2 separate regions of the Homo sapiens genome follow, and region 1 is linked to region 2. Evidence: fine-mapped expression QTL. A gene starts in region 2. The other region holds a variant in brackets. All regions are shown on one strand. Distances are from middle to middle. Region 1 overlaps PANX1 (pannexin 1). Region 2 holds the start of PANX1 (pannexin 1).

Region 1 (5,250 bases), 50 kb before region 2:
CAGAGAAACCGCCTGTAGACAAACTCTTTGAAAGTGACTGAATTAATGTCTTCTGTGATGTCAGATTTCCCCACTGGGCTCTTTTGGAAGCATTCTTCCTGAATTGAAGTCACTGTGAATATCCTTTAGATTTCATCTTGTTAACTCAGTTTTCAGTCAGAGCAGCACTTGGGCCTGCTGCCCTTCAAGGCACAGTGCAACAAATAGTGGTTACGGGATTTCCATCAGCCAAGGTTGACAACTAACAATGTAAAGAGAGCTCGAGTGTGGGCCAAGGCATCGGACCTTACACCTAACTTAGGACATAGGTCGACCTATGGATTATTAGCCAGTGAATGCTTTTCTTGTCTAACAGTCTTTAAGGGCACATAAGAAACTCACGTTAAATTATACCCTGACATATTATTATTCCATGAAAACAAAACAAATCTTCCAAAGTGCTTGTTTTCCAGTAGCTCTGGGTCTTGTCTCACCACGGGTACAGAAAGGTATTGCTCCGAGGCTCTGACAGGGCTACTGCTCTTGACTAATTGTTCTTGTCTTTCTGCTTTTCATTTGATGAGGACTTACACATAGTTACTTGCTGCAGTTTACTATCTCTCAGGTGCTTCCTATGGGAAGTTCATAAACCATTCTTCCATAACCTTTTGTTGATCACCATTTCCATTAGGGACTCAATAAGACATGCTCAGTATCTCCACCAAGAACCATTTATTGCAAACCAGCTGTGAAACCAACAGGGGTGCTTTAGCCAAATTAAATCCCATGTCGCAGAAGTCACAGATTTACAGCTCAAGGAAAAAAATCATCAGCAAGAAGAATCCAGAAGTCTCTGTCGGGCATTCTTCTCTCCATTATTTGCTTTAGTTTCACTGTCTATGTTCATACCTGTCAAAATTGAAAACAAATATTTATGACAGAAACATAGCAGGAATTACCAATACTAATCAATTTTTCTTCTGCCAAAAATTCCTCTCACAGTCTATACCATGTTTTGCTTCTTGGCCTAACTAAAAGAATCAATAAACTTTTAGTCCCCTTTGAAAGAGAAAGTCAGAGAGTAACAGAGAAGGAGATCAGAGGTAGAAAGGAAAGCCAGTAAGATAAGACAAAAATAAGCAAGAAAGACAAGGAAGATTGCTGAGCAAGAGAGAGTGTGAGACAGACAGAGAAGAGGGAAAAACCAGAAAAAGCACAGAAGTTATTCTTCTTTGGAAATGTAGAGCAGCACCAATTCTTTTCCTCTCTCTCCTTATACTGAGGGGTTCCCACTCCCCCTACCCCGCACCTTGGTATTAAGGTTTTTAATGCTTGGAAATGGTTTAAATGATGGGCAGGGTAAAGACTGTCAATATTCCCACAAGGCTGCTGCAAAGGCTCTCGGTAGACTCCCGTAGCCTCTGCCAAAAGCAAACCCTACCTTGGAGCTCTGCCGTCTGGTTCCCCTGCTCCTCTCTCATCTCTGCAGACATGGGAGTTTTGCCATCAACAACATCCATCTTGATCATGCCAAGGTTTGTCAGGAGTAGCATTGGGTCGATCCCCTGACCACTGCTCTTAATATTCTCCAGTACCTTAAGACACTTGTATGACTTGACCTCACTTATATTTTCCTCCAAGAAGAGATTGTAGAGGCTCAAATCGTTGTACCCTTCAGATTTGAAATGCAGAACATCAAAAGTGGGGAGGATTTCGTACACTTTGAGAACATCTGTCTTCTGTCGGAATGGAACAAACAGCGTGTAGACAACCACGGGAGCCAGCAGGACATAAACCACAAGGTTAATGACACTGAGCAACTGGAAGATGCCCACGGCAATGAGTTTGCACTGAAACTGATCGGGCACGGTGCTGTCGTTTCTCAGGATCCCTGATTTGATGCTGCACACAAACTCGTCTGAGAGTGAGGAGAGGCTGAAGTAATAGCCCAGGTAGATACACGCTAACAGTATAATGATGAGTGTCAGCAGGCGGCAGCTAATGTACTTGATGATTAAATTATTAGAATTTTTCTTTGTCTTCAAGTACTGCTCCACAATTGGGTACTTGAAGTGGCTTTCAGATACCTCCCACAAACTAAAAAATAAAGGAAACAAAAATAACTTAGGCACTCATCAAGACCATCAAATATTAAAGGCAGATACACATTCAACAATGTCACACTAAAAATTTCAAACACCCATACTTCTTTACCTACAACGTCAG[T/C]AGTCAAAAATAAAATCCGTTTAAAAGAGGAGGAAGAAAAGGAATAATAAAATGCTTTTCCCCTTAATATTTAACAGAAGGCCTAGTTAATTAAATGAGTTAATATTTGGAAATTTTTAGAGTGATGCCTGGCATCTGGTAAATCCTAAATATGTGTAAGCATACGCCTCTTACAGGCAAGGGGTGGGACAACTCAGGGGGTATGGGCAAAAACTATGGGGTCTAAAGGGCATGGTTCAGTTCCCAGACTCTCACTTACAGCTACAGAAGAGTATTTTTATCCAGAATAAAAGTGGAGGAGGAGGTTAACAAATGCACTAGTAATGTTGCTCTGAGGGTTAAAGGAGATAATGTACTTAAATAACTCAATACGGTGTGTGAGATATATTAAATATTCAAAAAATGATGGCTCTTATTATTATTCCAATTATTCAATAACAAGAACCAAAAGAAGGTTGTGAAAAGGCAAGCCACGACCTACTCATTCCCCATTTCTCTCTCATCCCTTGCTCAGCTGCCTTGAAATCCTCTGTGCGTCTCCATTAAGGAGTTAAATAGATCAAAGCAAGCAAGCTTCATATAGCACCTCAATCTGTTACCCCTACAAGAACTGCATTTTTAAAATGAGATGTAATGTTTCACTCATCAAGGGAATGAGTCTTGACAGAAGGATAAACAAATGGGTAGGATGGGTCGCGGTGAGATTTGGGGAGAGTGGACATCCCGGGATACTACAGGCTGTCACTAGGTGCATGACGTCCCCCTGCTTCCACTCCTGCCCCGCCTCCTAGCAATGAGAACTCTGGGCCCAGACTGGCAGTAGAAGGGCAGAGAATTTGTCCTACAAAACCCGATGAGCTGCCTGCTGGGGCTAAGTTACCTTTGCCCTAAGTTCTCGGTAACACCTGGAACTGAGCAGGCTCCATCTCTCATGTCAAGGTCACGCGCACTCTTTGCAGCCTTAATTGCACGGTTGTAAACTTTGTCAAGTTCTTCCATGATAAACTTCAAGTCTGAGCAAATATGAGGAGCAGCTGCGAAACGCCAGAACAGCGGGGGCAGGTACAGGAGGATCGCAAAGAGCAGCAGGATGTAGGGGAAAAACTGAAAAACAAGAGAACAAATCATGGGCTTAACAAACCCCCCATGCAGTAACCTATGGCGCCAAGTGATGCTCTCATTTTCTCACATCTTGAGACAAATGTGTATTGTGGAAATTGGGCTCATTACCTAATAACTACTTCTTATGGCTAAATTCCCCTGTCCAGGTAATACCTGTCACAGGTAACTACCTATTTTTTTTTCTTCCATAGGTATTAATTTGAAGTAATCAGCAACTGCATGGTGACACATGGTGTGTACGTTCTAATCACAGAAGGAAAATAAAAAAATAAAATTACTCCCGTTCCCTGAACAAAATCCCAGTTAAGAAACCTGCAGCTATCACGAAGGCTTCTGCTGGGTTTTTGTTAACTTTTATGGTTTTAAGAAGCAACTAAGGCATACGGCTCCATTTTTGCCCTACTCTGGAATCTGGGAAAATGCCAAAGAAACATGTAACTTCCCCCAAAACAAATTAGAAAAGCTTCGACTTCAGTGATTCAGTAATCATCCCAATAAGACAGCTGAAATAAGCAGTTGAATTCACAGAATGCAGAATGAATGTGGAACAGACTTTGAAGGCAGTCCAACACCCTCATCGTATAGTTGGATAAACTTGGGCTCAGAGAGGCCATCCACAACGGGCAAGGGAATCAAGAGGAGAGCATCCACATCAGGGTGCAGACACACACCAAACAAGAGGGGATTCACACGTCAGAGAGGGTGAGGAGCACCCCAGTAACCAGGACCACCAGTTGGTCAGAGGTGGCTTAGCCTCAGCAGAAGACTTAGGAAGACCGTAAATTGCAGTCAGTGCAGATCTGAATTGAAGCTCAGCATTGCGGCCTTGGGCAATCATGTCTACTCTGCAGAACTAAGTAGCTGCGACAGTGACCATGTGATCTGCAATGACAAAAAAACTTTATGATCTGGCCCTCTGCAGAAGTTTGCTGACCCTGGTCTAGGCCCTTGATGTCACTTTCGACTATCCTTTTGCGTGATCTTCTAATCAGCAATAAGACATAAGAGTATTGCTTTTTGTTTGCTCTTTGCCTTCTTGGACAAAACTGCTTCTTTTCCTTTCTGTTCCCTAATTAGAACCCTCACTCTGTGCTTACCAAGTGGCTCTCCCTGCCTCTATTCTCTCCTGTACACCATTACTGAGGCTTAACTCTTGGAACCGCCAAGTTCACCCTGCTCAGGTACCTGCAATGGCTCCCGCTGTCCCCAGCATTTAGCCCATCCATCTGGTTAGTTTTCAAAGTCTCTGACCCTCAGTTTCCTTATGTATGAAATGGTCATGGAATAGAGGTGTCATGAAGATTAAAGGAGATAATTGATGGAAAATGCTTAGCAAAGGGCCTGGCATAGAACAGGCACTCAAACACTCCAGGTAACCACAAAAAGATTAGCTAGGTGGACACGTTATGTTCAGTCCTCACAGCAACCCTGGCAGGGACTCTATAGATGGCTCCATTCTGCAAATGGGAAGAGAAAGCCGGGAGCAGTTTCTGGCCCCAGATCACAAAGCTGGTAAGTGAGAGTCAGACTATGTTGCCAACCTCTCTGACCCCAGAGACATCTTTTTCCAATCTAACACACTCTCAATTACTTTACTCCTCTGGAAAACTTCTCCTTACTTTTGGATGGGTCTATCTCCACCATTTCTCAGAGTTGTAATGGACGAGGCCATGATGGCCGTAAGTTGACATGAAACCCTCCCCTCAAAACATTTCTGGGAGTGGACGGCAGCCCCCACAACATGGCCCTCACTGTAATTTCAGATGTACAGAGCATTCCCATAAGCCCCTCACTCAGTTTCCCCCATTGCTAATGACTCATATTTCTGTGATATATTTGTTAAGACTAAGAAGCCAACATCGGCACATTATCAGAAACTAAACTTCAGACTTTTATTTGTAAAGTACAGTAGTAGTTTTTCCC
Region 2 (5,484 bases):
ATGCCAAAAGCTATCACCTTTAATTCACAACAAATGTTTATAGAGTAGTTTCAATCTCCATGCAAAACATGCATAGACAGGTTATAAAGCTCTGTGTTAAGTTCAACAAAAGAGTATTCCAAGCACCAGAGAGGGAAGCAGTAATTATCAACAGAGGAAGGATGAAGCCATGTTTTAAGTCTGCAGGCCTTATCTCAGTGTCTTCCCGGGGCCTGAGTTCACTGGCCAATATGGTGGGCAAAGTGCCAGCTCCATTTCAATTACTTCATTCTCCCTTTATTGCTGTTCTTTTTTTTGGTTTGTTTTTGGCTGAGTGCATACTACTAACTACACAAAATTAAATGCTGCATGACATGATCCCTCCCACTGTACCAACTCCATGTATTAATCTATGTACCTCTCCCCTCTTCTCAAAAGCCCTTCTTCTGGTTTTATCTAAATGTATACCTAATCTAATAGGTCTTCCCTGGTCCTGTTAGCTTCATCCCACATGTCTGTCCTCCCCTGGAACTCCTGAAAACACTTCAGAAAACATGGGAGTCTGCTTGACAGCTCCTCACCCAAGTGCCTGCCAACCTTCACCAGCCTGGAGCTCATAGCTCAACACCTGGCTGGGTGCTGAATTACACACAGCTGAATGACTTACCTGCTAACAGATACCTTCTAGTGCCCAACTGCATAGTAAACTGCCACAGGGCAGGGAGAGGGCAGGGCAAGAACAAGGTCTCAAAATCCTTTCCCATCTCCCTCAGCACACAACAGTGCTATGCACACAGCATGAGCTCAAACTCTTGCTAGTTAAAACCACTCCCAATACCCCAAAAATACCTCTCAGACAGCCCACCAATTTAGACGTATCTAAGGCATTACAGGTACAGGTGCCTTAGGAGTCCCTCTAGTACATGTGCTAGAGGTGGAGATTGGTCACAGAGGGTGACTAACTCCTTCCTCCTGCCTTTCTGTCCCAACCAGGTACCCAAGACTTGCACCTCCAAGACAGGGATCATGCCTCTTTTACTCCCGGGTCCTTGGAGGTCAGCACCGAGTTCAGCACACAGCCAGTACTGAAGGAGGAATTGACCAAAGGGAGAGATTATCTCCAGGACTCATGCTACTTGGTGGTTTTGCTTTCAGCTGGAAGCCTCAATCCACTGTCAAATGGAAACTTAAAGAACATCCCGATGACTATGCCTGCGCAAAGAGCAGGAAAACTAAAAACTATTTTCCACAATGAATTTGGCAACTTCCTGCCAAGCTGAACAACTTAGTGCTGCAGATTGCAAAATCACACTCATAGTCATTCTTTCCTAATCAACTATTCCCTCAACTTCACAATTCCCATCACCACCAACACCACACTCCACTCACCCAGACATACAACCTCCGCAGCACGTTTGACCAGTACTGCCGTTCATGGCCTATTAAATACTAGGTACTCAAGTGCTGCTTATTTACTCCTTGATCGCACAGCAATCACCCACCCATTTTCTTCCACTCTTCACACCCTCTGTGCACAAGACCTCAGCCGATGCCTTGCTCTCTGGCACCCAGCCCTCCAGGCCCCATCCTCTCACCTTCTTCCCAGACCCTAAATGCCACCATCATTCAACCAGTCTGTCCTCTGCTCAAACAATAACTTCACAGTTCTGAAACCATCAGCCTACACTCTTCTGTTCCAGGCTGACCCAGGCCCATATTCACTCTCAGACTCCAGGAACTCTGACTTATCCTCCTGCCTTGGCTAGGAGAGTCACTGTGTCTCTCTTTCCAGGAACATATAACATTCTCTGCCATCTCAAAACCTTAACAAAGGTCTTACTCCTTCTTGTCCAAATCCCACCCACCCTCTGACAAAAGTTTTCCCAAAGTCCAGCCGCACTGGGTCCTCTCTCTTCCCCTGCCACAGAACTGTATTTAACCCTCCTGCGCTACCTTCCTGTTGGTTCATAAACACTCTCTCCTGTGTGGAGAGTCAGAACAGCTGATGAGGAAGGTAAGGCACGTAGCCACGTGATCCTGCCCAAACCACCAGACTTTCCAATCTCACACAACTGTTATGAAGCTCAAATGATAATTTACAGGAAGGGGACTTGTTCATCTCACATTTGTAAGACCGTCCAAGTTGAGGATCCCTCTAATGCCTGCCAAGTGCAGATATTTCCTATCATTCACAACCCTAGAGAGCTAAGATCTCAGCAAATACCAATTATATGTAAGACACTGAAAGAACACACTTCTCATGGAGCACCGGTCTTCACATCCTCCATGTAGCCACTCAGGAACTTCTCTGGTGTAAAATTTTAGGCGGCTGGACAAATATGTAGGAGACAGGGGTGAAAAACGGGGACACAGCTATTCTTGGCAAATCTGGTGGCAAGGTGCCAGTTCTAAGGGTGGAACATAAACTATAAGCCACAGTCCGATCAGAGGGGCATGAGGAACAAAAGAACTGAGGAGTAGGGATGCGAGCAGAGTAGACCAGGGTACCAATGAAACACCTGGGCAAAGAACGCTTTGGACCATAAAACTGGGGCCACTGCCCTTCCTGACGCTCACGACCATCACAGCTGGGCGTACCCAGACTCGGGCCTGTGAGCCGTAAAATCGCAGCTCACCGGGCCAGACCGGGGCGGCCACTCCCCTCCGTCCTGGGCGAGGCTTACCAATCGAGATCTCCTGCGCGAAGGCCAGCGAGATGAGCAGCAGGGGCAGCCCCACCGCAATGCACGTGACCATCTTGTCCACAGCCAGCTCCAGTCGCAGCCCCTTGAACTTGGGCTCCGTGGGCTCCTTCAGCAAGAAATCCGAGAACACGTACTCCGTGGCCAGTTGAGCGATGGCCATGGCTGCGGCGCGCCAGGCTCGACCAGGAGGTCCGGGTACAGCCGGCGTCGGGAAAGCTGCGCGGCGCCTTCACCCAGTCACCGGCCGGGCGCGCGGCTTTCGCTTTCCCTTTGCCTGCTCCCGCATCCCGCCTGCCTTTGTGTCTCGGTGCCTCAGGCTCCCAGCGACTCCGCTGGGCTCTCGCGCTCGCTGCCTCCGCCGCCGGCGGGGCGGGGCGGGGCGGGAACCCGAGAGCTCCGCTTCCTGCGGTTCCACCCCGCACGCCCGTGCAAGTCCCCGGGCCGCGCGCGGCACTCGGATTCGCGCCTCTCCCGCGCACCCCCAGGCGCGGGAACCACGCGCGGAACAAAGCGCTTCCCTCTGGCCCTGCCCCTCCGCGCCGCCCTGGCTGCCGAAGCGGCCGCCGGGATAGCCCTGCGCTCACAGCCAGCTGCGCCGCGCTCTTCCGGAACCATGCGGGGAAACCAAGTACCCAGGGGCGTGGAGCTTCCGGAAGACGCGGTGACGCGGGGCGGGGTGGGCGCGGCTGCATTCCGCGCCCCTCGGGCCACTCTCTGACAAAGGGATTTTCCCACTGAGCGGCACCTTTGGAAATTCTCCCGTCCCTCCCTGCCGGATTCTCCTCACGTCCTGGCACCCGGGAGTTTTAAAATCATTTCTGCAAGCGACTCTTTCTGTGGATGGGATGGCCCCCTTTACGCCCCACCCCCAACATTTCCAACACGGTGAAATCGGGTTAGAAGGAGCTGCAAAAGCTTCAAAGAACAGTCAGTGCCATAAAAGGCCAATCGAGCGGTGTAGACCGACGGTGCCTTGCAGAGGGAGCGCTGGACCCTTCCAGGAGCTCCGCGTGAGAGGGTGGCGCGGAAACGGTAGTGAGTGTGGAGTTTCGAGGCCTGAGTAGCGCTGCTGGTCCCGTTTCTCTTTCCTCTGCCATCCCAATCAGAGCCTTGTTCCGGGAGCCAGCAGAGAGAGGGGGGCCTGCAGGTAGGTGGGTGTTGGGGCTGCAGAGAGCTGCTTCTGAACAGCTCATAGGAAGTGGATGATGGAAAGACAGGAGGAAATACTCTGACCAGTGTCCACGGAAATTAAGGCTGTTGAAGTAGAAATAATTTGATTTATTGGAAGCTAAATGTGAGGATCCACCCAAGAAGACTTACCAGCAAAGTTGGGCATGTTTCAAAATTTGTTACACGTTGGAAGGGTTTTAGAAGAAAGTTTAGGAAAAGGGAGGAGGACCCCTTATATCAGAGGTGGGATTTTTTTCATCGGAGGGTATGGTACACAGGTTACAGTCACTGGCTGCAGATGACAACATACAGGCTAAAATGTTTTGTGCACAAGAAAATCAAAGTTTATATGATTCAGAAACAAGTCAGTGTTCTTTTCAATGTCAGTATTTTACATACTAATCAGTACATCAGCAGTTTGAGGAACTGACAAAAGGATTTGAAGGACTCACAGTAAGATTTTTTACTCAGGGACAGGATCTAAGCCATGAATCATAAGACCTTTCTTAGATGGCTTAGTTTGGAAGCCCTGTCAAATGTGACATGTAGGTTATCACCAGTAACATTTGAAGCAGGCAGGACCTGCAAACATGAGGGCTCCTTGGGGCAGGGCTTGGCTCCCTTCTCTGTGGGTCCACAGATACAAGCCTCAACTCCCACATGTACCTCTCCACCCCAGCCTGGCCGCTAAACACACATCCAAGAGCGTATACAGCTCTCTCCGCGTAGATGGCTCATAGGGCTTCAAACTCATAACGGCCAGGACTTCAGTCTTCATCTTCCCCTTAAACCTGAACTCCATCTTCCCCATCTTACTAAATGTACCACCAGCCACCTGTGCACCCAAGTCGGAATCCTGGAGCACCATCTTCAACACTCCATTTCTCACAGCTGCCATAACCAATTTTCAAATTCTCTTGCTTCTCTCTCCTAAATATAGCAAATCTGACACCCCTCCACCTGCACTGCCAATACCCAATTCAACTCACCATCCTGTCTCCTAACCACATATAGGAAATATGTGAGACAGGGTCCCCCTCCATTCTCCTCTACAGCTGCCAGGATGAGCTTTTCAAAACTCCAGTCGGATCATCTTTTCTACTTAAAGTGTACATTGTTTTTAGCATAAAATACAAATTTCTTAGCATGGCCTCTGCCTACCTCACCACCAGCTTCACTGCTTTCCTTTCAGTTCTTCAAGTTAGCTAAGCCCTTGGCCTCCTCCAGGCCTTCCCACCCAAAACACTCCCCACAGTGGCCTCTTTGCCTGGCCCACCTTTATTCACCCTTCTGGCCTCAGCTTGATGTCACTTCCCTGGGAAAGCCTTCCCTAAGTAGACAGACTAGATTAGGTCCCTTTGTGAAATTCTCCCATAATACTAGCCACACTAGTTACTAGCTATTAGTCTTGGGGAGTTCTTTGACTCTCCTGTGTCTCAGTTTTCTCATCTGTAAAAAGGTTGTACCTCTTAGGACTGTGATAAGGACCAAATGAGTTAACACGTGGGTAGTGCCCAGTGCCTGGCACCTTGTGAATCTAGGTACATTTCATCTGTCATTGTTCTCTATTTTTCCTTCTTAAAAATAGTCACCATTGCAACTCAACAAATATTTATTCATTTATTTAGTG

Evidence for each region. PIP is the estimated chance that this variant, and not a neighbour inherited with it, causes the effect.
Region 1: its variant is the best candidate, but not a certain one, in a credible set for the expression of PANX1 in tibial artery (GTEx, PIP 0.59).

The regions. Positions count from the first base shown.
Region 1 is chr11:94,176,428-94,181,677 of GRCh38, reverse strand. It overlaps PANX1 (pannexin 1), which reads right to left. Exons shown (of 5, transcript NM_015368.4): 3 at 3,086-3,309; 4 at 1,421-2,076; 5 at 1-888. The coding sequence ends at 809. Among named protein-coding and RNA genes, the nearest start is that of PANX1, 50 kb to the right of the region's middle. The variant T/C (reference allele first, on the strand shown) is at 2,206.
Region 2 is chr11:94,126,673-94,132,156 of GRCh38, reverse strand. It overlaps PANX1 (pannexin 1), which reads right to left and starts at 3,316. Exons shown (of 5, transcript NM_015368.4): 1 at 2,664-3,316. The coding sequence starts at 2,844. RefSeq lists enhancers at 2,744-3,003, 3,324-3,383 and a silencer at 3,024-3,093.